Homo sapiens: one gene and its partner. The protein of the gene in region 2 purifies or fractionates together with the protein of the main gene of each other region. This does not show direct contact. Each region holds a gene or a part of one and is shown on either strand. Other genes may lie near its edges.

Region 1 (11,177 bases), on a different chromosome or scaffold from region 2:
ATAATCTGTAAAATGGGAGTAAGAACACCAGTCCTTCCTTCCTCACAGTGTTGTACTGAGAACAGAATAAAGCAACTGTAATTGTTTGTAAATTCTATAAAGGCTGTGCAGATTATGATTTTTTTTTTTTAGCTTTTAAAATCTTTTCCTCAAATGTATTCAGTACCCACATTTAATCTTTATAGAAGACCATATTCGAAGTAGTGGGAAGACATTTTACTTTTAGGATCAAAGGAGAAAAATGTTTAAGGTTTAACAATTCTCTAATTCTAAAAGAGTTATATTTCTTTCCAAACTCTCAGAAAGTTTTGATGGCCAGATATTTTAAACAAAATAAACTTGGGAATTAAAAAAGGAAAGCAATTAAAAGTAAGTCTGAGATTTAGCTGTAACTTGAGGAGAAAAGAATTTTTACAAGAGGGATAGGAAAAGATAAGGTCTTAAAAACAAGGAACTAAAAATTAAGACTGAAGTTTTGTAACCTTAGGAGCCAGGATTTTGATGCCAACAGTTAATTATCCCAGAAATTTCTTTTTTTTTTTATTATTATACTTTACGTTTTAGGGTACATGTGCACAATGTGCAGGTTAGTTACATATGTATACATGTGCCATGCTGGTGCGCTGCACCCACTAACTCGTCATCTAGCATTAGGTATATCTCCCAATGCTATCCCTCCCCCCTCCCCCCACCCCGTAACAGTCCCCAGAGTATGATGTTCCCCTTCCTGTGTCCATGTGTTCTCATTGTTCAGTTCCCACCTATGAGTGAGAATATGCAGTGTTTGGTTTTTTGTTCTTGCGATAGTTTACTGAGAATGATGATTTCCAATTTCATCCATGTCCCTACGAAGGACATGAACTCATCATTTTTTATGGCTGCATAGTATTCCATGGTGTATATGTGCCACATTTTCTTAATTCAGTCTATCTTTGTTGGACATTTGGGTTGGTTCCAAGTCTTTGCTATTGTGAATAATGCCGCAATAAACATACGTGTGCATGTGTCTTTATAGCAGCATGATTTATAGTCCTTTGGGTATATACCCAGTAATGGGATGGCTGGGTCAAATGGTATTTCTAGTTCTAGATCCCTGAGGAATCGCCACACTGACTTCCACAATGGTTGAACTAGTTTACAGTCCCACCAACAGTGTAAAAGTGTTCCTATTTCTCCACATCCTCTCCAGCACCTGTTATTTCCTGACTTTTTAATGTTTGCCATTCTAACTGGTGTGAGATGATATCTCATTGTGGTTTTGATTTGCATTTCTCTGATGGCCAGTGATGGTGAGCATTTTTTCATGTGTTTTTTGGCTGCATAAATGTCTTCTTTTGAGAAGTGTCTGTTCATGTCCTTTGCCCACTTTTTGATGGGGTTGTTTATTTTTTTCTTGTAAATTTGTTTGAGTTCATTGTAGATTCTGGATATTAGCCCTTTGTCAGATGAGTAGGTTGCAAGAATTTTCTCCCATTTTGTAGGTTGCCTGTTCACTCTGATGGTAGTTTCTTTTGATGTGCAGAAGCTCTTTAGTTTAATTAGATCCCATTTGTCAATTTTGGCTTTTGTTGCCATTGCTTTTGGTGTTTTAGACATGAAGTCCTTGCCCATGCCTATGTCCTGAATGGTAATGCCTAGGTTTTCTTCTAGGGTTTTTATGGTTTTAGGTCTAACGTTTAAGTCTTTAACCCATCTTGAATTGATTTTTGTATAAGGTGTAAGGAAGGGATCCAGTTTCAGCTTTCCACATATGGCTAGCCAGTTTTCCCAGCACCATTTATTAAATAGGGAATCCTTTCCCCATTGCTTGTTTTTCTCAGGTTTGTCAAAGATCAGATAGTTGTAGATATGTGGCATTATTTCTGAGGGCTCTGTTCTGTTCCATTGATCTATATCTCTGTTTTGGTACCAGTAACATGCTGTGTTGGTTACTGTAGCCATGTAGTATAGTTTGAAGTCAGGTAGTGAGATGCCTCCAGCTTTGTTCTTTTGGCTTAGGATTGATTTGGCGATGCGGGCTCTTTTTTGGTTCCATATGAACTTTAAAGTAGTTTTTCCAATTCTGTGAAGAAAGTCATTGGTAGCTTGATGGGGATGGCATTGAATCTATAAATTACCTTGGGCAGTATGGCCATTTTCATGATACTGATTCTTCCTACCCATGAGCATGGAATGTTCTTCCATTTGTTTGTATCTTCTTTTATTTCCTTGAGCAGTGGTTTGTAGTTCTCCTTGAAGAGGTCCTTCACATCCCTTGTAAGTTGGATTCCTAGGTATTTTATTCTCTTTGAAGCAATTGTGAATGGGAGTTCACTCATGATTTGGCTCTCTGTTTGTCTGTTGTTGGTGTATAAGAATGCCTGTGATTTTTGTACATTGATTTTGTATCCTGAGACTTTGCTGAAGTTGCTTATCAGCTTAAGGAGATTTTGGGCTGAGACAATGGGGTTTTCTAGATATACAATCATGTCTGCAAACAGGGACAATTTGACTTCCTCTTTTCCTAATTGAATACCCTTTATTTCCTTCTCCTGCCTAATTGCCCTGGCCAGAACTTCCAACACTATGTTGAATAGGAGTGGTGAGAGAGGGCATCCCTGTCTTGTGCCAGTTTTCAAAGGGAATGCTTCCAGTTTTTGCCCATTCAGTATGATATTGGCTGTGGGTTTGTCATAGATAGCTCTTATTATTTTGAAATACGTCCCATCAATACCTAATTTATTGAGAGTTTTTAGCGTGTTGAATTTTGTCAAAGGCCTTTTCTGCATCTATTGAGATAATCATGTGGTTTTTTCTTTGGTTCTGTTTATATGCTGGATTACATTTATTGATTTCCATATATTGAACCAGCCTTGCATCCCAGGGATGAAGCCCACTTGATCATGGTGGATAAGCTTTTGGATGTGCTGCTGGATTTGGTTTGCCAGTATTTTATTGAGGATTTTTGCATCAATGTTCATCAAGGATATTGGACTAAAATTCTCTTTTTTGGTTGTGTCTCTGCCTGGCTTTGGTATCAGGATGATGCTGGCCTCATAAAATGAGTTAGGGAGGATTCCCTCTTTTTCTATTGATTGGAATAGTTTCAGAAGGAATGGTACCAATTCATCCTTGTACCTCTGGTAGAATTCGGCTGTGAATCCATCTGGTCCTGGACTCTTTTTGGTTGGTAAGCTATTGATTATTGCCACAATTTCAGATCCTGTTATTGGTCTATTCAGAGATTCAACTTCTTCCTGGTTTAGTCTTCAGAGAGTGTATGTGTCGAGGAATTTATCCATTTCTTCTAGATTTTCTAGTTTATTTGCGTAGAGGTGTTTGTAGTATTCTCTGATGGTAGTTTGTATTTCTGTGGGATTGGTGGTGATATCCCCTTTATCATTTTTTATTGCGTCTATTTGATTCTTCTCTCTTTTTTCTTTATTAGTCTTGCTAGCAGTCTATCAATTTTGTTGATCCTTTCAAAAAACCAGCTCCTGGATTCATTAATTTTTTGAAGGGTTTTTTGTGTCTCTATTTCCTTCAGTTCTGCTCTGATTTTAGTTATTTCTTGCCTTCTGCTAGCTTTTGAATGTGTTTGCTCTTGCTTTTCTAGTTCTTTTAATTGTGATGTTAGGGTGTCAATTTTGGATCTTTCCTGCTTTCTCTTGTGGGCATTTAGTGCCATAAATTTCCCTCCACACACTGCTTTGAATGTGTCCCAGAGATTCTGGTATGTTGTGTGTTTGCTCTCGTTGGTTTCAAAGAACATCTTTATTTCTGCCTTCATTTCGTTATGTACCCAGTAGTCATTCAGGAGCAGGTTGTTCAGTTTCCATGTAGTTGAGCGGTTTTGAGTGAGATTCTTAATCCTGAGTTCTAGTTTGATTGCACTGTGGTCTGAGAGATAGTTTGTTATAATTTCTGTTCTTTTACATTTGCTGAGGAGAGCTTTACTTCCAACTCTGTGGTCAATATTGGAATAGGTGTGGTGTGGTGCTGAAAAAAATGTATATTCTGTTGATTTGGGGTAGAGAGTTCTGTAGATGTCTATTAGGTCCACTTGGTGCAGAGCTGAGTTCAATTCCTTGTTGACTTTCTGTCTCATTGATCTGTCTAATGTTGACAGTGGGGTGTTAAAGTCTCCCATTATTAATGTGTGGGAGTCTAAGTCTTTTTGTAGGTCACTCAGGACTTGCTTTATGAATCTGGGTGCTCCTGTATTGGGTGCATATATATTTAGGATAGTTAGCTCTTCTTGTTGAATTGATCCCTTTACCATTATGTAATGGCCTTTTTTGACTCTTTTGATCTTTGTTGGTTTAAAGTCTGTTTTATCAGAGACTAGGATTGCAACCCCTGCCTTTTTTTGTTTTCCATTTGCTTGGTAGATCTTCCTCCATCCTTTTATTTTGAGCCTATGTGTGTCTCTGCATGTGAGATGGGTTTCCTGAATACAGCATACTGATGGGTCTTGACTCTTTATCCAATTTGCCAAGTCTGTGTCTTTTAATTGGAGAATTTAGTCCATTTACATTTAAAGTTAATATTGTTATGTGTGAATTTGATCCTGTCATTATGATGTTAGCTTGTTATTTTGCTCGTTAGTTGATGCAGTTTCTTCATAGTCTCGATGGTCTTTACATTTTGGCATGATTTTGCAGCAACTGGTACCGGTTGTTCCTTTCCATGTTTAGCACTTCCTTCAGGAGCTCTTTTAGGGCAGGCCTGGTGGTGACAAAGTCTCTCAACATTTGCTTGTCTGTAAAGTATTTTATTTCTCCTTCACTTATGAAGCTTAGTTTGGCTGGATATGAGATTCTGGGTTGAAAATTCTCTTCTTTAAGAATGTTGAATATTGGCACCCACTCTCTTCTGGCTTGTAGAGTTTCTGCCGAGAGATCCGCTGTTAGTCTGATGGGCTTCCCTTTGAGGGTAACCTGACCTTTCTCTCTGGCTGCCCTTAACATTTTTTCCTTCATTTCAACTTTGGTGAATCTGACAATTATGTGTCTTGGAGTTGCTCTTCTCGAGGAGTATCTTTGTGGCGTTCTCTGTATTTCCTGAATCTGAATGTTGGCCTGCCTTGCTAGATTGGGGAAGTTCTCCTGGATAATATCCTGCAGAGTGTTTTCCAACTTGGTTCCATTCTCCCCATCACTTTCAGGTACACCAATCAGACGTAGATTTGGTCTTTTCACATAGTCCCATATTTCTTGGAGGCTTTGCTCGTTTCTTTTTATTCTTTTTTCTCTAAACTTCCCTTCTCGCTTCATTTCATTCATTTCATCTTCCATTGCTGATACCCTTTCTTCCAGTTGATCGCATCGGCTCCTGAGGCTTCTGCATTCTTCACGTAGTTCTCGAGCCTTGGTTTTCAGCTCCATCAGCTCCTTTAAGCACTTCTCTGTATTGGTTATTCTAGTTATACATTCTTCTAAATTTTTTTCAAAGTTTTCAACTTCTTTGCCTTTGGTTTGAATGTCCTCCCGTAGCTCAGAGTAATTTGATCGTCTGAAGCCTTCTTCTCTCAGCTCGTCAAAGTCATTCTCCGTCCAGCTTTGTTCCGTTGCTGGTGAGGAACTGCGTTCCTTTGGAGGAGGAGAGGCGCTCTGCTTTTTAGAGTTTCCAGTTTTTCTGCTCTGTTTTTTCCCCATCTTTGTGGTTTTATCTACTTTTGGTCTTTGATGATGGTGATGTACAGATGGGTTTTTGGTGTGGATGTCCTTTCTGTTTGTTAGTTTTCCTTCTAACAGACAGGACCCTCAGCTGCAGGTCTGTTGGAGTACCTGGCCCTATGAGGTGTCAGTGTTCCCCTGCTGGGGGGTGCCTCCCAGTTAGGCTGCTCAGGGGTCAGGGGTCAGGGACCCACTTGAGGAAGCAGTCTGCCCGTTCTCAGATCTCCAGCTGTGTGCTGGGAGAACCACTGCTCTCTTCAAAGCTGTCAGACAGGGACATTTAAGTCTGCAGAGGTTACTGCTGTCTTTTTGTTTGTCTGTGCCCTGCCCCCAGAGGTGGAGCTTACAGAGGCAGGCAGGCCTCCTTGAGCTGTGGTGGGCTCCACCCAGTTCGAGCTTCCCAGCTGCTTTGTTTACCTAAGCAAGCCTGGGCAATGGCGGGCGCCCCTCCCCCAGCCTCACTGCCACCTTGCAGTTTGATCTCAGACTGCTGTGCTAGCAATCAGCGAGACTCCGTGGGCGTAGGTCCCTCCAAGCCAGGTGCAGGATATAATCTCCTGGTGCGCCGTTTTTTAAGCCCGTGGGAAAAGCGCAGTATTCGGGTGGGAGTGACCTGATTTTCCAGGTGCCGTCTGTCACCCCTTTCTTTGACTAGGAAAGGGAACTCCCTGACCCCTTGCGCTTCCTGAGTGAGGCAATGCCTTGCCCTGCTTCGGCTCGCACACGGTGCGTGCACCCACTGACCTGCGCCCACTGTCTGGCACTCCCTAGTGAGATGAACCTGGTACCTCAGATGGAAATGCAGAAATCACCCGTCTTCTGTGTCCCTCACGCTGGGAGCTGTAGACCGTACCTGTTCCTATTCGGCCATCTTGGCTTCTCCTCTTATCCCAGAAATTTCTTAAGTATTTTGTTGACCTGCATACTTCCTTGAATCAAAATGTTGAGGTTAATAGCTAACCTACTGCTTGCTGCTTCTTCTAGCACTATTATATTTTAGGAACCTAATGGCATCTAAGGATTTCACCGTGTAATAACAGTGGGAATTTATTTTTCTTGGTGTTTGGAAACTCTCAGGAATTTTTTTTTCCTTTTTCTTATTTTTCTCTCCCTCTCAATTATAGGTTGAAGCTCCATTCATACCAAAGTTTAGAGGCTCTGGAGATACCAGCAACTTTGATGACTATGAAGAAGAAGATATCCGTGTCTCTATAACAGAAAAATGTGCAAAAGAATTTGGTGAATTTTAAAGAGGAACAAGATGACATCTGAGCTCACACTCAGTGTTTGCACTCTGTTGAGAGATAAGGTAGAGCTGAGACCGTCCTTGTTGAAGCAGTTACCTAGTTCCTTCATTCCAACGACTGAGTGAGGTCTTTATTGCCATCATCCCGTGTGCGCACTCTGCATCCACCTATGTAACAAGGCACCGCTAAGCAAGCATTGTCTGTGCCATAACACAGTACTAGACCACTTTCTTACTTCTCTTTGGGTTGTCTTTCTCCTCTCCTATATCCATTTCTTCCTTTTCCAATTTCATTGGTTTTCTCTAAACAGTGCTCCATTTTATTTTGTTGGTGTTTCAGATGGGCAGTGTTATGGCTACGTGATATTTGAAGGGAAGGATAAGTGTTGCTTTCAGTAGTTATTGCCAATATTGTTGTTGGTCAATGGCTTGAAGATAAACTTTCTAATAATTATTATTTCTTTGAGTAGCTCAGACTTGGTTTTGCCAAAACTCTTGGTAATTTTTGAAGATAGACTGTCTTATCACCAAGGAAATTTATACAAATTAAGACTAACTTTCTTGGAATTCACTATTCTGGCAATAAATTTTGGTAGACTAATACAGTACAGCTAGACCCAGAAATTTGGAAGGCTGTAGATCAGAGGTTCTAGTTCCCTTTCCCTCCTTTTATATCCTCCTCTCCTTGAGTAATGAAGTGACCAGCCTGTGTAGTGTGACAAACGTGTCTCATTCAGCAGGAAAAACTAATGATATGGATCATCACCCAGATTCTCTCACTTGGTACCAGCATTTCTGTAGGTATTAGAGAAGAGTTCTAAGTTTTCTAAACCTTAACTGTTCCTTAAGGATTTTAGCCAGTATTTTAATAGAACATGATTAATGAAAGTGACAAATTTTAAATTTTCTCTAATAGTCCTCATCATAAACTTTTTAAAGGAAAATAAGCAAACTAAAAAGAACATTGGTTTAGATAAATACTTATACTTTGCAAAGTCAAAAATGGCTTGATTTTTGGAAACAATATAGAGGTATTCATATTTAAATGAGGGTTTACATTTGTTTTGTTTTGTAACCGTTAAAAAGAAGTTGTTTCCAGCTAATTATTGTGGTGTACTATATTTGTGAGCCTAGGGTAGGGGCACTGCTGCAACTTCTGCTTTCATCCCATGCCTCATCAATGAGGAAAGGGAACAAAGTGTATAAAACTGCCACAATTGTATTTTAATTTTGAGGTATGATATTTTCAGATATTTCATAATTTCTAACCTCTGTTCTCTCAGTAAACAGAATGTCTGATCGATCATGCAGATACAATGTTGGTATTTGAGAGGTTAGTTTTTTTCCTACACTTTTTTTTGCCAACTGACTTAACAACATTGCTGTCAGGTGGAAATTTCAAGCACTTTTGCACATTTAGTTCAGTGTTTGTTGAGAATCCATGGCTTAACCCACTTGTTTTGCTATTTTTTTCTTTGCTTTTAATTTTCCCCATCTGATTTTATCTCTGCGTTTCAGTGACCTACCTTAAAACAACACACGAGAAGAGTTAAACTGGGTTCATTTTAATGATCAATTTACCTGCATATAAAATTTATTTTTAATCAAGCTGATCTTAATGTATATAATCATTCTATTTGCTTTATTATCGGTGCAGGTAGGTCATTAACACCACTTCTTTTCATCTGTACCACACCCTGGTGAAACCTTTGAAGACATAAAAAAAACCTGTCTGAGATGTTCTTTCTACCAATCTATATGTCTTTCGGTTATCAAGTGTTTCTGCATGGTAATGTCATGTAAATGCTGATATTGATTTCACTGGTCCATCTATATTTAAAACGTGCAAGAAAAAAATAAAATACTCTGCTCTAGCAAGTTTTGTGTAACAAAGGCATATCGTCATGTTAATAAATTTAAAACATCATTCGTATAAAATATTTTAATTTTCTTGTATTTCATTTAGACCCAAGAACATGCTGACCAATGTGTTCTATATGTAAACTACAAATTCTATGGTAGCTTTGTTGTATATTATTGTAAAATTATTTTAATAAGTCATGGGGATGACAATTTGATTATTACAATTTAGTTTTCAGTAATCAAAAAGATTTCTATGAATTCTAAAAAATATTTTTTTCTATGAAATTACTAGTGCCCAGCTGTAGAATCTACCTTAGGTAGATGATCCCTAGACATACGTTGGTTTTGAGGGCTATTCAGCCATTCCATTTTACTCTCTATTTAAAGGCCGTGAGCAAGCTTGTCATGAGCAAATATGTCAAGGGAGTCAATTTCTGACCAATCAAGTACACTAAATTAGAATATTTTTAAAGTATGTAACATTCCCAGTTTCAGCCACAATTTAGCCAAGAATAAGATAAAAACTTGAATAAGAAGTAAGTAGCATAAATCAGTATTTAACCTAAAATTACATATTTGAAACAGAAGATATTATGTTATGCTCAGTAAATAATTAAGAGATGGCATTGTGTAAGAAGGAGCCCTAGACTGAAAGTCAAGACATCTGAATTTCAGGCTGGAAAACTATCAGTATGATCTCAGCCTCAGTTCTCTTGTCTGTAAAATGGAAGAACTGGATTAGGCAGTTTGTAAGATTCCTCCTAACTTTCACAGTCGATGACAAGATTGTCTTTTTATCTGATATTTTGAAGGGTATATTGCTTTGAAGTAAGTCTCAATAAGGCAATATATTTTAGGGCATCTTTCTTCTTATCTCTGACAGTGTTCTTAAAATTATTTGAATATCATAAGAGCCTTGGTGTCTGTCCTAATTCCTTTCTCACTCACCGATGCTGAATACCCAGTTGAATCAAACTGTCAACCTACCAAAAACGATATTGTGGCTTATGGGTATTGCTGTCTCATTCTTGGTATATTCTTGTGTTAACTGCCCATTGGCCTGAAAATACTCATTGTAAGCCTGAAAAAAAAAATCTTTCCCACTGTTTTTTCTGCTTGTTGTAAGAATCAAATGAAATAATGTATGTGAAAGCACCTTGTAAACTGTAACCTATCAATGTAAAATGTTAAGGTGTGTTGTTATTTCATTAATTACTTCTTTGTTTAGAATGGAATTTCCTATGCACTACTGTAGCTAGGAAATGCTGAAAACAACTGTGTTTTTTAATTAATCAATAACTGCAAAATTAAAGTACCTTCAATGGATAAGACAATTGATTGAGTCGTGAATTCTACTTGGTGCCCTCATCTCCTGATTTATTTTCCGCTGATACAAGAGATGCTTATAGATTCCTAGTTTTTATGTGTTTGGGTTGATTTCTGGGTGGTGGGAGCAGAGCACATTGGGGAGGAATATATCCGCCAGTCTACTCACACTGGATGTTTACTAAGAAACTGCTAGATTCATTTAATAGTTTCTCAAAAGTGTTTCTACTTCTTTCTCATTTCTCATATTGGTTCAGATTACTGCTAACATAATGTTCTAAATATTCATATTTAAAGGATTTGATTCTTCAAGAGCACTCATCCTTCTATTGTAACAATGAAATATTAATTTCTAATTTTTTCTTCAGGAGTGTTTTTGAGCTTCACATTACCTCTTTTCATTTTAGACAGGTTAATTAGTGTGTATTTCCATAGTTGTCTTTTACCTCAAGAAATAATCATTTCTTTAGGTAATTATTTTAATGGCTTGCCATTTTGTATGATTGTTCTTGCAAACATTTCTATTTATGCATTTTATAACATGGAGCTTACTATTTTTATACCAGTGCTCGCTTCATTTTATCATTATCAGGGCTTAATATAAATGCAGTTTTCTCATTTCCTTGTAAAACTAATTACAAAAATCTAGGTATGTCTTTACTGAAGAACTATCATCATTTGAAATCTATTTAGCTGTAAATTTTCTCTTGTGCACAAATACTGGATGTGAAGTTAAGTACTTTTCATTTAAGCTTTCCTGAAGATTTTCCATATGCTTATTTAATAGCCTTTATGCCTGTTGTTATGACCTGGATTGTGAACTGTGAACAAAATTCATACTGAAATTCTAACCACTAGTACCTCAGCATGTGATTGTTTTAGGAGGTAAGGCCTTTGAAGAGGTAATTAAAGTAAAATGAGGTCATATGGGAAGACTTCATCCAAGATGACTGATGTCCTCATAAGAAGCACACAGACAAAGGGAGGACCACGTAAAGACATAGGAAGAAGATGACCATCTATAGGGCAAGGACAGAGGCCTCCAAAGAAGCTGACTTTGCCAACATCTTGACTTGGGACTTCTA
Region 2 (11,547 bases):
TTCTACTGAAATCACTTTCTCTCCAGAAGTTGTGCTATTGCTCACATTTGATTCACAGACCTCATCACCATCTTTCCGTGAGATGCCTTCACTTAGATCCTGGGTTGACTTAGCCTTTGTTGCCTGATCATTCAATGGGGTCTGTGTTTGTATATCCAAAATTTCAGCTTCTTCCTGGACTTTGATGCTGCAGTCTGAGTCTTCTATAATTTTGGAATGATTACTCCTTTTTGGCCCTCTTGGGAATTTTATGCAGGGAATCTTAAGTCTAGATTTTGCCTTTTTCTTAGAAAGATCAGCATCCTCAGCATTTATTGCAGGTTGCATTTCACCCTCCAATGGCTTTTGCTGCTTTGAAGACTCTGACCTTTTCCTGCGTGTTACAAGACGTTTGAGTGAGGCCCAGGCCCCCCGTGTGGGCTCTGGCTGATCAGAAGCTCCTGCTTCTTGTGGACACTTCCTTGCCACATCAGCAGCTTCAGAGCCAGCTTTGGGCTTCAGTGCTTTGGCTGCTTTCTTTCTTCTCTTGAAGCAAAGCATGGATGCCTTTTCCTTCTGCCTTTCAGCCCCAGGACTACCTTCTGCTGATCTCTTCTCATCCTTGTTTTCTACATGAATTTCTGAAATTGTGGTTTCCATTTTTACACTGCACTCTTATTCTCTAGAAAACTGTATTCTCTCTTCCTTAGCAGCCTTTTGTGACAAAAAGATGAGCAAAAATGTCACACTAGGTAAAATTTCTTCCAGGCATATTCATACCTTTCATCTTACTCCATACAGTTGTTTTAGGTGGTTTCTCTAGTATAGAAATGCCCAGTTTCTCTATGGCTTGTAATTTCTCTCTTTAATTTCTTGATGAAAGCCCTTCTTTGGATAAATTTTTGCTTTATTTAAAGATCAACCTGATGAGAGAAAAGAAAGTGGTATTTTATTTCACTATGAGCCTATTATTTTCTGTGGAGACTATTTCAGTGAATGTATAAGATTCTACCAGGCATATTTTCCATATAATAACTTAATGAAATGACTGGAGAATAAACATTGGGGTTTACTTTGGCCCTATTAAAGAGTTCAGTGTGATTCTATTTTGTTTTATCCTCCTTGTTGAAACTTCATTTTGGATTACCCTGCAAGTCTGATATTATCAGTTCTTTAGTTGTGTTGTCTGTGTGAATTGCTTATGACTCTAAAGTGCAAGTTAAGCAAACAACAAGAACCAAAAATGAAGTGCAGGATGAAAAGCAAGCTGATGTAATCTTTATCACACTCAATAGATAATTTTAAAGCTGCAAAGGACTTTAGAGATTATTTGAGATTACTCAAATCCAGCCAGATGACAAAACTGAACTCCAGAGGGGAGCAGTTGTCTTGTCAAAAGCCATGCAACTAGATAAGGTCATAGCCAGAGTTAGAACTAGAGACTTTGACTCTCTAGTTTTACCATTATAACATAAGGTTTCTGTTCTAAAAATGTATGTTCCATCAAGGAAGTGCTATTTTTCATACATATTCTTAGGAAAATTTAGCATTACTGTCATTTCCCACTCTTAAATTAGTTGTACAATTTTGACATTTTCATTTAAGTACTGTATCTGCTGTATCACATGTTTCCACCATAATCTGCACATAGTTGGAAGTCAGTAAGAGTAGTAATAGCTGACATTTATTGAGCAATTCTTGGGTATTAGGCAGTGCATGCACTTTTACATACATCTCTAATCCTCACCACAATATTACAAAGATGGTGGTATCACCACGTACAGATGAAGCAATTTGGCTGAGATTACGGCAGAGCTGTAACAGAGCTCAGATTAACACAAGATTGCTTGTTGCTTAAAGCTTATGTTCTGAAACTGGGCTTTAAGAGTTTCGTCAGAAAATGAATTGTTTGGGGATACTAATCTGCAGTGTTTCATTAGTAAAAAAATTAAAAAATTGATTAATGGTCATTTAACCATAAGGCACTTATCAACTCATAATTGAACCACGAGTAGACTGAGTTCTTGTCATTTGAAAACCAAGCTTTTGAAATTCTTTATATTTTATTTTTTTGGTTCAGGAACTAATTTAAAAGCCAAAAATAAGTTGGCAAACTATGCAATTGGCAAACTTAGATAATATAAAGGTGTATTGAAAATTTAATCCTTAGAATGGTATGATGGCACCAAAGAATGGAAATGGGAGGTGATTATCCAACAAAGATCCTATGAATTTTAGTGGGTGGATGCCCTAAAATAAGCAAAGGGACTCATTCTTTATATTGTTTTTATGTAAATCCTTCACTGAAGTTTCATTTGGGTAACCCATAATTTTATGAACTGTAGAAGGAACTGGAACCCTGAAAATCAGTTTATGATCTAAGTAAATATTATCTTAGGTTGGGTGTTTCATACTGTGTGCCTCTAACAGAAAGATAAAGTCATTCTAGAACAATGACGGAACTAAAATATGAACATTTGACAGTGTTTCTCCTCACAATGTTTCAGTGAGCACTAGAACCTAAGCTGATAACTGTTTAAATCTTCTCACCTCTTGTGAGTTTTCAGCACCTGAGCATTTTTGTTAAGCAGAGGCTGTATTACCACATAATAGAAATATTGAAATGAGATGTTTAGGAGTCTGTCATTGGAAACTAACCTGGATTGCGCAAAGACAATCGTTTGAGAAGCTCACTTGAATGTATCTCACATACTAGAAATAAAACGAATACCCAAACAGAAACTTAACTAACGAGGGAAAATAATGCAGTCTGTAGACAATAAAACTTTGCAGAATGTCAGACTGCAAATGATTCGCTCTTAACCAGCAAGGGTAGCTTTATCGCCTCAGGAAATCTTAAAGTCCCTGTGCTCATTTCCTGATGGAATTGCAAGTCTCATGTCACAGAAAACACCCCCTTTCCTTTTTCCCTTGAGCAGCCAGTACCCGAGGAAAGCAATGCATCTTTCCCAGCACCAGATACGGACCACGAAGCTTCCTCCTGGAGGAAGGAATCTCGAATTCTGGCTTGACGCCCCTTATGGCAGGAGACAGAGCGCAGGATAAAGTACTCAAAAAGGAAAATGCCGGGGGCGTGGAACAGATAACCCAGCTTCAGGCTGTCTGCAGAATTATAATGTAATGGCCAGAAACCCAAAATCACATTTCTCAAAGAGGGATAAAGAAGGAAAAAAGCCACCGGCAACCCATGCTTCTAAGACAAGCTGTAACGCGAAGGGGATAGGTGGGCAGACCTGATGAGGGTCGCCCTGGCCGCGGATTCCAGCGGACAAGCGACCTCCCGCGTTCTTACTCCCAGCACCTCAGAGGGCTCGGATACCCCGTATCCAGTGGGCACCTCTTGCCCACTCCGCGGTCCGCGGACCGGACATTGCCCCCGACCCTCCTCCCCCGCAGGCTCCCCGCCCTGCCTTTACTTACGTAGGGCGTCGGGGTCCTTGGCCAACACTGCTCCCGAGGTGGCGGCGCGCTCGCGGGGCCCGCCGCCCAGGCCTCCAGGGAGCCGCGGTCGCACCCGGAGCAAGGCGCCCTCTGCAGAGCCCGCCGCCGGGTGCGCCCCCTCCCCACCGCGCGGGGACAGACAGCAGGCAGCGCCAATGCGAGCGGAGCGGAGCGGGCGGGCAGGGGCGGGGCGACCGCCGGAGGCGCGGGGCGGCGCGGGCGCCGGGACCCACCTGCAGCAGCAGCCTGCCTGCCTGCCGCGGGGAAGCCCATCGTGCTCCGCCCGGGCGCCAATCTCCACTGCCAGACCACATCAGCGCCGAGGCGGGGACCGCAAGAGAGCCAGCCGGAAGGTTCGGGGGGCGGGGGAAGGCGGGGGGGACCAGGGCAATGAACCCCGCGTTTTCTGAGACGCTAAATAGTGAGGTCCGGTTTCAAATTATAGACAGTCGCATTACACATCTCCTCTCCTCCCCCTCAGAATATTTAAAGACAAGGCAGACATCGCATTTTAAAAGCAGGATTCAAAACTGTGCATAGAATAGCGAGGTCATGTTTGTTTGAAGCGAAAATTACATATATAAATGGAAACAGAAAGAAACCCGACTTTCTCAGGAGTGGCTTGAGTGTCAGATCATCGTGGTTCATCGCCAAACAGGCTTTCAAACCTTTGTCTCCCAGTGGGAAGCAGGTGGAGGTGATTGGTGCAGAACTTTGGCCTGCAGGAGCAGCTGCATCTCTATGCGGACAAGGTGAGAAAGGCACAGGAACCCAGCTCCATCCATCTTATACCTTACATAGTTCCAAAAATAAGTTGAGGTAGCTTACAAGTTACCCATGATTCCCTTCAGGACATTCCCTATGAGGGCATTCCTGGGAGCTCCAGCTGTAAAATCTAGTAGGATCCATCACAATCCCAGCCTCCTCCTCTGGCCCCCATAGCATAGCATCCAGATGAAGAACCTGGTAAGGTGAAGTGAAGAACTACTGAAAAGCAGCCGCGTTCATCTCCTTTCTTCAACAGGATCACGACCTTAGGGAGTGTAAATGTCAGGTGTCCATTTTTGTATTTTTTCCGGAAATGTTTTATATTTGTAAGATTCTGTAGTTTCCACAGAGGCTTATCAAGGAAAGAACTCTTGAGACACAAAAGCAAAGCCAAATATAAGCTGTCAAGATCTTAAAATTACAGATAAAAGAGGCAAGAGTTGTAAAACAGGAAAATCCATAAGCATCTAGTTTAGTTGTAATTAAGAATTCAGGGATGGGCGCAGTAGCTCACACCTGTAATCCCAGCACTTTGGGAGGCCAAGGCAGGAGGATGGCTTGAGTCCAAGAGTTTGAGACCAGCCTGGGCAACATAGGGAGACAAAAAAATCTAAAAAATTAGCTGGGCATGGTGGTGCACGTATGGTCCCAGTTACTCAGGAGCTCAGGAGGCTGAGAAGGGAGGATCACTTGGGCCCAGAAGGTCAAGGCTGCTGTGAGCCACTACTGCACCACTGCACGCCAGCCTGGGCAACAAAGTGAGACCCTGCCTCAAAAAAAAAAAAAAATTCAGTCAGCCTTGTTCACTCAGCAAACACGTCTATCGAAATGGTCTGCGTATCTCTCTATGGGTTGCTAGCGCTGCTTGTTGCCAGTTTTGAACTTTAAGCCAAAAGAAATCCATTATGCTTATAAGCAATTGAGAACTATTCCTTATTGAGATCCAAGGTTTCTCAAAACTAGCAGACCTGGGAGTTTGCAAGAGTTTCAGGCAAAAAATAAGATGAGCTTATTTAGGTGAAGACAGGGTAAAATAGCTGTCTTATTTTTATTTTTATTTGAGACAGGGTCTTGCTCAGGCTGGAGTGCAGTGGTACAATCCCTGGCTCAAGCAATCCTCCCACCTCAGCCTCCCATGCAGCTGGGACCACAGGTATGCGACCACATGCCCAGGTTCTTCTTCTTTTTTTTTTTTTTGTAGAGATGGCGTCTCCCTATGTTGCCCAGGCTGGTCTTGAACTCCTGAGCTCAAGTGATCCTCCTGCCTTGACCTCCTACAGTGCTAGGATTACAGGTGTGAGCCCCCATGCCTGGCCTTCACTTGCCTTTCTTTTAAACAAAATTAGTAAAAGGGAACTGAAAGGCAGTTTGAGGTGAGAGATGAATTTATTTAGTATTTGAAGGGCAAATTCGGACAGACTTCCTTAAGGTATATTACAAACAAGTCATCCCTGACCTCCACCAACACACATACACACAGAGTCACTCACACAGAGTATAGTACTATAAATAACATAGCGCACCATAGTTTTTCTTTAGGATATGACTAGAACTCAATGCCATATGTGTGTGTGTGTGTGTGTGTGTGTGTGTGTGTTTAATGTATCCAGTACCTCATGCATGAAAGAAACCTGTCATTCCTGAATTCAGGTAAGTGACAACGAAGGCTGTTTAAGCTATTACCCATATCATTGTCTACTACCCCATTAGTAGCTTTTCATTATATAACAGGAAATAGGCTATAAATGTATTTCTGCAATCTGATGAGAAATTATCCTACCTATAGCTTATCATGTTAATATCACTAGATACAGTGTGCCAGTAAAATAGCTTACATATTTATCTGAGCAATACTCTACTGATCTTACCATTTATCCCATCTTGATCTCTACCCATTGCCTGGGCCTATAGCTACCAAAAATGACTTATAACTCCTTGTTAATAGCTCTTACATTTCAGAGGCCTTCTGGGAATAAGCCCTCCAACCCCGTTCCCTGGGACACCATTGAATGAACCTGAGGCTCCAAGTCTCTGGTGGTTTCATCTGTTCCTGGGCACCATGAGGGTTGCACAGAGCCAACACAAACTCAATAGTAATACTGTTGCAATCTGTTTAATGTGGCAGCACATAAATGCTATCTCTTTTGAATTAAGACTGTGTGTACATCTTCAGTGCACAGAAACAGCCTCTGAAGTGAGATCAGAGAATGTACAATTTGTTTATCAGTAATATTACTAATAAGGGGAAGGAAGGCATTAGCAGCCCAGAGAAGAGAAAGGGCACGGGAAAGCCACTAATCTGGAGGGACTCTTAGCACCAAGGTAAAGGCACTAGACCTTCTCTGCCAGCACATGCTAATAGTTACCCCAAGCACTAATGCTTCTATAGGTCTTTTTTATTTTGACACAGGGTCTTGCTCTGTTGCTCAGGCTGGAATGCGGTGGCTCAGTCATAGCTCACTGCGGCCTCGAACTCCTAGGCTCAAGCAAACCTCTCACATCAGACTCCCAAGGAGCTAGGACTACAAGCGTGCACCACACACTCAGCTGAGTTTTGGGGTTTTGTTTTTTGTAGAGATGGGGTCTGTCTTGTCCAGGTTAGTCTTGAACTCCTGGGCTCAAGTGATCCTCCTGCCTCAGCAGCCTGGACAAGACAGTGAGACCCCATCTCTACAAAAAACAGAACTTCAAAACTCAGCTGAGTGTGGTGGGATTACAGGTGTGAGCTACCATGCCCAGCCCCTACCAGTATTGAGGATTTAAACCCATGTGGCTGTTGGCGATATTAGGAAACCTAAATCCTTTAAGATGATCCTTAAGTCACCATATCTGACAAGACTGCATCCTTCCCTTGTCTACAAAATGAATTCCCAGCAAATCCCATTCCAGGTGAAGTTTCACAGGACATTAAGAAATGTACCAGAAAGCGGTCGGGCACAGTGGCTCACGCCTGTAATCCCAGCACTTTGGGAGGCCGAGGTGGGAGGATCACTTGAGGCCAGGAGTTTGAGACCAGCCTGGCCAACATGGCAAAACCCCATCTATACTGAAAATACAAAAAATTAGCCAGGCATGGTGGTGCGAACCTGTAATCCCAGCTACTCGGGAGGCTGAGGTGGGAGAATCGCTTGAACCCGGGAGGCAGAGGTTGCAGTGAGCTGAGATCACGTCACTACACTGCAGCCTGGGCAAAAGAGCACGACTCTTGTCCCAACCCCCCTACCCCCCCTGCCAAAAAAAAAAAAAAAAAAGGAAAAAAAAAGTACCAGAAGCAATTAACTCTGCAAACAGGGCCTGGAGGATGCTGTGCAACAGGAACTGACAAGTGCTTACAATGTGCCAGGCCCTGTACAAAGCATCTTAGATGATGTGTTTGAGTAATTCCAGAACCGCCCTCACGAGGTAGGTACCAACAGTGCTCCTATTTCCATGGTGAGGATGTGGAGGCAGGGAGGTGGGTGAGGCTCTCTGCCATAGAGCTGGGGCTCTGCACTGTGACCCCTTTGCCATATGCCTCTCAAGGCAGCGCTATCATTTCTGTGGACTGTAAAATTGACTGTATTACAACATTGACATGGACCTAGGGAATTAAAAATAATAAAACCAAGGTCACTGGGAAAAATACTGCTTTGCCAACATCAGCAGTGTTTAGCACTGGCGCCAGTGGGATGCAGCATCCTCTGGAAGGATCCAGTGGAGGGAGACAAGGGGAAAAAGGGAAGGAAACAAATGGGAGAGGAAGAACAGAGATAGAAGATAAAGAACAAGAAGAGAAGGAAAAATATTTGATTTATTTTTTTAGACAGAGTCTAGCTCTGTCTCCCAGGCTGGAGTGCAGCAGCATGATCCTGGCTCACTGCAACCTCTGCCTCCTGGGTTCAAGCAATTCTCGTACCTCAGCCTCCCAAGTACCTGGGGTTATAGGTGCCTGCCACCACACCCAGCTAATTTTTGTATTTTTGGTAGAAACAGGGTTTTACCATGTTGGCCAAGCTGGTCTTGAACCCCAGACCTCAAGTGATCCGCCCACCTCGGCCTCCCAAAGTGCTGGGATTACAGGCATGAGCCACCTCCACGCCCAGCCAGAAGAGGAGGAAAAAAAATATTAGGTTGGTGCAAAAGTAATTGTGGTTTTTACCAACCTAATGTTTTAGGAAAAAGAAAGTCTGGGCCAGGTATGGTGGCTCATGCCTATAATCCCAGCTACTTGGGAGGCTGAGGCAGGAGAATCACTTGAACCCAGGAGACGGAGGTTGCAGTGAGCTGAGATCGCGCCACTGCACTCCAGCCTGGGCGACAGAGACACTGTCTCAAAAAAATAAAAATAAAAATAAAAAGTCTGTAGGGAAGGGTGGAGCCCAGGCATTTAGAAGAAACTCAATGAATACTTGCTGCACCAACAGAATAGAGGCTCACCTAAGGCTAATGCTGCATGACCATCCTTCTTGAGCACTCTAAACATAGACAGTGCTAAAGCTGTGACAGAAATGGGAATTCCAAGGAAGTTCAGGCAAAAACTTGTATAAGCAATACTTCCTCAGGGTAGAAAAACAAAATTCAACAATATAGAAAGGTATAAGATTAAAAGGTAAGTCATCAACTTCCAACCCAACCCTCTCAGGAGGTCCCCTGAATTATGTGTCCTCTCAGAAATACACAAGCATGCATACATTTCCCTCTAAACACAACAGTATCATAAAGGGCACACTGCAACTTGCATCTTCAGCCCAAGGGTCTGCCTGACAAATGAGCTCACAAAGGATGGCAGAGACCTGTGGCACAGTCTGTTAAGGCTGTAATTCATATTGCAACACCAAGATGGCAAACTTGTTTCCTTTTATTCTGTGGAACGTCACTAAAGTAAACAGACATGCATGATTTATGTTAATTTATACATGATGAGAATTAAGGCTGAAAATGACTTCTGGGGAAACTCCTACTATTAGTTTCAGATCTTCTGGGCAGGGGCTGACTTCTCTTGGCTTACTTATACTTCCTAACTCCCAGTGGGCCTGAATAGACACTGGCCAGACTTTCAAAGTAGCTTCTTGAAGATGGATGGTGATCTGGAAGGAAAAACAAGAAATAAATGTTTTCTCTAAGCAAGCACTGAAATGTTTCCTGTTCCTTCCATACTGCACCATTACCCACTCACATTGCCAAAGCTGTTAACATTTACATCCTTTCCTGCCACCAGCTCTTCTAGGGCGTGTCCATAAATGGACTTGAAAATGATGCATGGTATTTCCATAGTACTGTGTGAATACTGTTCAAGACCAGACCAAGCCGTGAGCCATGACTGCATTTCGAGTATCACACATACCCTCTCAAAGAATAGTGTTCTAGCATCAAACTACAGTTTGCTTCTACTTGGACCTTAACTTTCTCAAATAATGCAAGAGCTTTTGTTTTATACTATGACCCTTTGATATCCTTGTCTTTTCTAGCTTTTTCTAGTTTTTCTCAGGTGCTCCCCCAACCTGTTCCACACAGGATTTGTAACTTCAGGTCATTTGCATGGTTATCAGAATGCCCCTTCGCTAATGTCCAAATGAGGGTTCAGTTTCCCAAAACTCACGTCTTCCTTTTTTCTTGGTTAATTCCTCATTTTGCTAAGTACATTGCTAAATAACTTCTTAGGAAGAGATGTGGGGTGGCAAACCCTTGCACGTCTGAAAATATCCAGATAGATTCGGCTAGGTGTGAGCACATGTTGAAAGTCATCTTCCCTGTGACCTTACAGGACACTCCTCCATTGTCTAAAAGCTTCTTATTGCCAGTAAGACGGGCGTTAAGTCTAGTTCTCATTCTTTTCATAGGCAAGCCACTTTTTTCGTCTCTGGAGAAAGATGTTAGGATTTTCATGTTTGATATTTTTGCAGTTTCAACAGGATGTGTCTAGGGATATAAGTGCACACTGCAACTTGCTGCTTCAGCCCCAAGGGTCTGCCTAAGGAGAGACACGTCCTGTTGAAATTTCAAAAATATCAAACAATGCAATGTCACTCATTGCAGTCGGTACTCAGGGCCCTTTCACCTAAGGCCCTAAGAACTGCCAGATTGGTCCTGTTTCCTTCTCTTTTCTATTATACTTCCTAAGACATTTGCTAATTCTTGCCTTCTAACTACCTATTCAGAGTATACAGACCGTCAGCTGTTCCTGACCTGCAATGTGTCATCAACTCTGAACCCCAAGCCTCCTGGGGCTTCAGCAGAGGGAGTCTAACCTCTCCTGTAGTTTCCTCTGTAGTTTATTGGACAGCAGTTTTCTCCCCTACACTGTCAACCTGTGACAAGCCATGCTGCGCTTCTTCCAAAAATGTGTTGAAATATAAATATTTCAATTCATTGGTTATTGCCAACTCTCATTACTATCCCCTCTCCCCTCAGGGAAGTCTGAAAAGAAATGTTTTGAAAGCATTAGAATGTGAATTTTTATAGCGTCAGTTTGAGCCCTATAATTCATAAATAAGCTACATGAGGAAAAAAGCCAAATTATTACCCAGTAACAACTTACCTGTTTAGAATAATCCATTCACCTGTTCTGTTTCAGGGTCCAAATCAATATCATAAAAACAGGGCCGGGTGGGGAGTCCAGGCATTGTGCTCATCTAGGATGTAAAAAAGCATTACAAATAAACTAATGCTGGGCACAGTGGCTCACGCCTATAATCCCAGGCTGAGGTGGAGAGGATCACTTGAGGCCAGGAGTTCTAAACCACCCTGGGCAACATAGTGAGACCCCCATCTCTACAGGAAATAAAAAATTAGCTGGATATGATGGCATGTGCCTGTAGTTCCAGCTACTTGGGATGCTAAGGCAGGAGGATTGCTTGAGGCTAGGAGGTTGAGGCCACAGTGAGCCATGATCATCCGATTGCCTGGGCGACAGAGCAAGGCCATGTCTAAAATAAACGTAAAGTCATCTTTACTTTCACTTTTCCTTCAGAAAGAAAGCCCAAGGCATAAAGATAGAACATCATTTTATAGTTGTCAATAAAGTGGGTACTCTTGTTACATATTAAAAATCAAGTCACTGATCCTGTTAAAAAACTCAGAAACTGATCCCTGCCGGGCGTGGTGGCTCATGCCTATAATCCTAGCACTCTGGGAGGCCAAGGCAGATGGATCACCTGAGGTCAGGAATTTGAGACCAGCCTGACCAACATGGTGAAACCCCATCTCTACTAAAAATACAAAAATTAGCTGGGCATGGTGGCGTGTGCCTGTAATCCCAGCTACTTGGGAGGCTGAGGCAGGAGAATCGCTTGAACCTGGGAGGCGGAGGTTGCAGTGAGCCGAGATCTTGCCACTGCACTCCAGCCTGGGTGACAGAGC

The links.
Region 1: the proteins of AKAP5 (region 2) and PRKACB purify together in Homo sapiens (affinity purification with mass spectrometry; 5 studies listed by BioGRID and IntAct, with this or other methods). This does not show direct contact.

The regions. Positions count from the first base shown.
Region 1 is NC_000001.11:84,228,399-84,239,575, forward strand, and holds the end of PRKACB (cAMP-dependent protein kinase catalytic subunit beta), read left to right. Parts: intron 1-6,781; coding exon 6,782-6,907; 3' UTR 6,908-10,100; downstream 10,101-11,177. UniProt on the Homo sapiens protein: Mediates cAMP-dependent signaling triggered by receptor binding to GPCRs.
Region 2 is NC_000014.9:64,457,487-64,469,033, reverse strand, and holds the start of AKAP5 (A-kinase anchor protein 5), read right to left. Parts: upstream 3,536-11,547; 5' UTR 3,421-3,535; intron 903-3,420; 5' UTR 640-902; coding exon 1-639. Other genes in the region: MTHFD1 (C-1-tetrahydrofolate synthase, cytoplasmic), read right to left, coding at 9,099-9,275. UniProt on the Homo sapiens protein: Multivalent scaffold protein that anchors the cAMP-dependent protein kinase/PKA to cytoskeletal and/or organelle-associated proteins, targeting the signal carried by cAMP to specific intracellular effectors.